Linked DNA regions of Homo sapiens: region 1 is linked to region 2. Evidence: fine-mapped expression QTL. A gene starts in region 2. The other region holds a variant in brackets. All regions are shown on one strand. Distances are between the middles of the regions.

Region 1 (2,906 bases), 25 kb after region 2:
TTTTTTTTTTTTTTTTTTTTGAGACGGAGTCTCGCTCTGTCACCCAGGCTGGAGTGCAGTGGCGCAGTCTCAGCTCACTGCAACCTCCACCTACTGGGTTCAAGCAATTCTCCTGCCTCAGCCTCCCAAGTAGCTGGGACTACAGGCGTGCGCCACCATGCCTGCTTCATTTTTTTAATATTTAGTAGAGACAGGGTTTCACCGTGTTAGCCAGGTTGGTCTCAATCTCCTGACCTCGTGATCTGCCTGCCTCGGCCTCCCAAAGTGCTGGGATTACAGGCATGAGCCACTGCACCGGGCTGTTTTGGGATCTTAAACACCTTATTTCTTTAATATCTTCTAAAAAATTACTAGCATAATGTTCATTGTTGGAAAATTCGGCCAGGTGCGGTGGCTCACGCCCGTAATCCTAGCACTTTGGGAGGCCAAGGCAGGTGGATCACGAGGTCAGGAGTTCAAGACCAGCCTGACCAGCATGGTGAAACTCCGTCTCTACTGAAAATACAAAAAATTAGCCAGGCATGGTGGCACACACCTGTATTCCCAGCTACTCTGGAGGCTGAGGCAGGAGAATTGCTCGAATGGTCCGGTAGGCAGAGGTTGCAGTGAGCTCAGATGGCGCCACTGCACTCCAGCCTGGGTGACAGAGCGAGACTCTGTCTCAAAAAAAAAAAAGAAAATTTGGAGAAAAGAGAACACTACAAAGAAAGGTAAATCCTGTCTCTGTTTCTGAAACAAAGTAAAATGACTGTTACCATGGTGTCTCCTTTCCAGGTTTTTTTCTAAGTATTTTTATTTAGTTTATAATAGTAAAAATTTTTTTATTTTAAAGGGATGTCAGTTTGATATTTGGTCTGTTAATTAGAACAAAACTCTGATTAACTACAGCTGAACTAATGAGACCCAAATACCTGCAGTATTTGGAGAAAGACACAGATACCTTCAACTAAGCAAGGATTCCTTTTTTGTTTTTTGAGACAGAGTCTCACTCTGTCGCCCAGGCTGGAGTGCAGTGGTGCCATCTCAGCTCAGCACAACCTCTGCCTCCTGGGTTCAAGTGATTCTAATGCCTCAGCCTCCTGAGTAGCTGGGATTACAGGTGTGTGCTACCACACCTGGCTGATTTTTGTATTTTTAGTAGAAATGGGGTTTCACCATGTTGACCAGGCTGGTCTCGAACTCTCAACCTCAGGTGATCTGCCCGCCTTAGCCCCCCAAAGTGCTAGAATTCCAGGTGCACAAGGATTCTTTTAATTTAAAAAAACCTGTCAGTGTTTGCGCTGGGATCAGTATTCCTTTATACCTGGTTCCTAAGTATTTATGTTACCAGTGCTTTCAGAGAAATGTCCCTCAGAAATGTTGGGCAGAGATAGCAGTGTCCTTTTAATGCAGCAGGTACTTTGATTTGATTGTGTTCTTCCTCACAAAGGCAGAGAAGTGGATGAATGTTTTTTTTTAAAAAAAGATATTTGGGCCGGGCCTGGTGGCTCAT[T/G]CCTGTAATCCCAGCACTTAGGGAGGCCAAGGTGGGTGAATCACGAGGTCAGGAGTTTGAGACCAGTCTGTCCAAGGGAGTTTGAGACCAGTCTGGCCAACATGGTGAAACTCCATCTCTACTGAAAATACAAAAATTAGCCAGGCACGGTGGCACACACCTGTAGTCCCAGCTACTCGGGAGGTTGAGGCAGGAGAATTGCTTGAACCTGGGAGGCGGAGGTTGCAGTGAGCTGAGATCATGCCATTGCACTCCAGCCTGGGTGACAGAGCGAGACTCTGTCTCAAAAAAAAGAAAAAAAAGATTTTCAGCAGTAAGAGCCACCTTGGAAAGTTTCTGTGCTATTTACTTTCTCTAGCAACTCCCACTTCTAAGGTAGAATTTTAGATCCACTTACAGCTCTGTATCAGGATCCTCTGAAACATCTACCCCAAAGCTAGCCTAACCATTGAAACTCTTTGGACTTACACTGTAGAATCTTTGAGACATGTGAAAAAACTTTTCTAGAACCAAATGTGATTGGTCTAATATTTTAAAATTCTTTTTAGGCAAAGGGGCTGATTTGAGTAAGCCTCCATGTCGAAAAGCAAAGGAAATCCGGAAAGAAAGGAAAAGGTTAAAACTAATGCAGCAGAACCCAGCTGGAGAACTTGAGGGTTTCCAGGCTCAAGGTCACCCACCATCTTTGTTTCCACCAAAGGCTAAATCCAACCAGCCAAAATCACTCGAAGATTTAATTTTTGAGTCTTTACCAGAGAATGCATCACACAAGTTAGAGGTACTTTGGAGGACTTTTGTTGTTTGTTTTATTATGATTTTTTTTTGTTTGGGCATATCGTTTATTTTTATTTGAAGTTCTAATTAGTTGATGTTTGCTAGTTAAATAATGAGAATTTAAAAGAAATTAAAGAGAACTGGGAAGAAGTAACATTTGTATTTACTAAGTTAACTGCTGTTTGAGGGAAACTCCTTTTTTTTTAAAAGACTTTTTGAGAATACATAGTTGGCCACCAAACTTGTGAAAACAGTGTCAATTTTAGCATGCTACCTTGATTGAAATTTAATAGTTAAAATGAAAGAAATACTCTTTAAAATTGTGTTTTTAGCAGTTTTGGTTTAGATAGTGAAAGACAATAGATTACACAAGGCAAATCACTATTTCATCCATTATAATATTCTGATCTTGGTAAAGACAGCAAATGGTGTCATATACATAAGCCAGCAGTTAGGAATTATCTAAATAGGGCTAAATTGTACTGCTGAAATCCTCTCTCATTAGTGCCAAAACCACTTTGGGCATAATATGAATACTTTTAGAGCCAAATTCCTCCATTTTTCCAAATTTATTTTCGTTTCTAGATCAGATCAAGATTTCTCAGTATTAGTTTCTCATATATAAAATTCAAAAACAAGG
Region 2 (2,906 bases):
CTAGGTACATATCTAACACAGGCCCTTGGGGTCAAGAATGTCAAAACTCACCTCAAAAATTTATTTCTATTTCTCTGAGTTTCATTTCACTTTTTTAAACACACTTAAAACAATATTGTATCATCAGCTTTATTGTTGACTGGGAAAACTATGAGGACAGACAGGCTTAAATTATCTGTGCACGCAGAGGGAAAGATAAGGCATATTACCTTGTTGGAACTCTTTTTTTTTTTTTTTGAGATGGAGTCTCGCTCTTTCGCCCAGGCTGGAGTGCAGTGACGCGATCTCTGCTCACTGCAAGCTCTGCCTCCCGGGTTCACGCCATTCTCCTGCCTCAGCCTCCCGAGTAGCTGGGACTACAGGCGCGTGCCACCACGTCCCGCTAATTTTTTGTATTTTTTAGTAGAGAAGGGGTTTCACCATGTTAGCCAGGATGGTCTCTTATCTCCTGACCTCGTGATCCACCCGCCTCGGCCTCCCAAAGTGCTGGGATTACAGGCGTGAGCCACCGCGCCCGCCCCTGGAACTCATTTTTTAAAAAATTTTTTTGAGATGGAGTCTTGCTCTGTCACACAGGCTGGAGTGCAGCGGCGTGATCTCGGCTCACTGCAAGCTCCGCCTCCCGGGTTCACACCATTCTCCTGCCTCAGCCTCCCGACTAGCTGGGACTACAGGCGCCCACCACCACGCCAGGCTGATTTTTTGTATTTTTAGTAGAGACGGGGTTTCACGTGTTAGCCAGGATGGTCTCAATCTCCTGACCTCATGATACGCCCGCCTCGGCCTCCCAAAGTGCTGGGATTACAGGCATGAGCCTCAATTTTATATTTTGCCCTAGACTCTTATTCCTTAAATCTTCCTTAAAATAGTGGTTGCAAAATGGAGGCCCATGGGCTGGATTCAGCCTGTAAAACTGTTTTGTTTGGACTGTAGAGTTAAAAAAAACAAACAAACCCTGTATTTCCAGCATCTCATTAAAAATCGTATGAGGCACCGGACTTATAGTGGTACAAGACAGCAACTGTCTCTAGCTGACAGTTGTTTCCTTTAAAAGCCGTTAAGAGTTCTTTAATTTGCGAACCCTCGCCATTCACGGAATACCTGCTTGTGTTCTTGTATTCAGGGCACTGGAGTGCGTGCCAGCTGGTCTGGAAGCAGCTCCAGCAAGTCACTTACACGGTGGCCAGGGGCGGCCTGACTTTCAATCCGAGACCCGCCGGGAATGACTTTGGGATAATCACAACCTCCGGTCCTCAGTTTCCTTACCTGTGAAATGGGGCTGATAACGCACAGCTGTGGGAAGCACCGGCCCAAACGCAGGGCTTGGGGACACGACCACCATCCCCGCCCACGGGTCCCCGCGCCAGGCTTCGCTCTCCACCCCTCCCGCCGCGGGCCCCAGCGCTTCGCCGAGGTCGGCCCCGGGCGCCAAGAGGCGTGGTCGGCCCGAGCGGACCCTCGCGGCGGCCATGGCGTCGGTGGTGGAATACAAGGGCCTCAGGGCCGGCTACCACTGCGGCTACTGCGATTCCAAGGAGGGCAAAGCGTCCTGCGGTGAGTGTTCCCGACGCCGGAGTTGGCGCGGCCGCCGCGCCCCGCACAGGCCCTCGGCGGGGGAAAGGGCAGGCTCGCACCCCGACTCCCGCTTCCCTTCCCCTCTTGACTCTCCCCATCCTGTTTCCCTTCCCGCTCTGTCTCTCCGCCTCACCCTCACTGACGACGGCGGCCCCTTATGGAGAAGGAACGGAAATAGTGGAAAGCTGCCCTCGGTCAAGATGGCGCGGGCGGCGTCAGCTCCAAGAGGCGCCGGGCCGGCCGGGCCTGCGGGCGCCCGAGTGGCTTCGCGCGAGCCTCGGGAGGCTCCCGGGCGGCGCGCTGCATTGTGGGGTGGCGGCGGCGGCCGCGCTAGCGACGCGGGGCCGGGCGGCTGAGCGTTCGCGGGGCCGAGGCCATGGCTTTCTGGGCGGGGGGTTCGCCCAGCGTCGTGGACTATTTCCCTAGCGAGGACTTCTACCGCTGCGGCTACTGCAAGAACGAGTCGGGCAGCCGCTCCAATGGTGAGCGAGCCGGGCCGGCGGGCGTGGGAAGCCGGGCGCCCGGGTCTCGGGATCCCAGGGTCCCCCAGCGAGGACGCGAGGGGGCCGGAGCCCCTGGCCCCAGTGCCACGGCCGAGACGGAGGGGGCACTCTCGGGAGGGCCGCGGCGCCGGCTTAGCGGGGCAGCTTCGCGGTGCCTGTTCTGCAGGAAAATCCTAACCGGTGCCCGTACTCTCGAAATCGTGGTGGTCTCCCCAGAGTCGGGAGACGGACGCCCGTCTGGGGTAGATTGTGTGAGGTGAAGGACGGCGCGCAGTGCCAGGGAACGCCCCAGAGCCGTAGTTAATGGCCGGGGCTGACCGGTGGGTGCTGCGGTGGGAGCGTCCCGGGAGCGAGGGCGAAACGCGGTGCAGAGGGAGCTGTGGGTGTGCACACAGGTGCCGGTCATGTATGAATCAGACTTCCCTGGACGAATGTACAGGAAGGATGAGCCCTTTGCATCTCTGGGTTAAAAAAAAAAAAAGTTAAAAAAAAAAAGGACAAGAAACTGGTGACCGCGGTCGCTACCGGCGAGGGATTCTGTTTGTCCTGATCTGTTTGAAATTTTTACCATTTGCTTATATGCCGTGTCTTTCCTCCACCCACCCGGACGACAGCAAAGCCAGCCCACAAGTTTGTTTTGTTTTTCCATCGTGATTCAGATTTCTTTGGGGGAGATTTGTTGCTGGTAAACAAAACATCGTGTTTATTTCCTCTCTTGCCATGCATTTGCCAATATAGAATGTAGACTCTATTATTTTAATAGAACAGTCTAGCTTTGTGGAAAACGAGATTCGCATGAAAACACACAGGCATTTTCCATGAAAAAGG

What was found.
Region 1: its variant is fine-mapped to the expression of ATE1 in whole blood (TOPMed, PIP above 0.99).

Annotation. Positions count from the first base shown.
Region 1 is chr10:121,901,755-121,904,660 of GRCh38, reverse strand. It overlaps ATE1 (arginyltransferase 1), which reads left to right. Exons shown (of 12, transcript NM_001001976.3): 6 at 2,041-2,270. Among named protein-coding and RNA genes, the nearest start is that of ATE1, 25 kb to the left of the region's middle. The variant T/G (reference allele first, on the strand shown) is at 1,493.
Region 2 is chr10:121,926,995-121,929,900 of GRCh38, reverse strand. ATE1 (arginyltransferase 1) reads left to right here and starts at 1,870. Exons shown (of 12, transcript NM_001001976.3): 1 at 1,870-2,057. The coding sequence starts at 1,952. It also overlaps the pseudogene ATE1OSP. RefSeq lists silencers at 1,289-1,588, 1,779-2,198 and enhancers at 1,104-1,970, 2,509-2,658.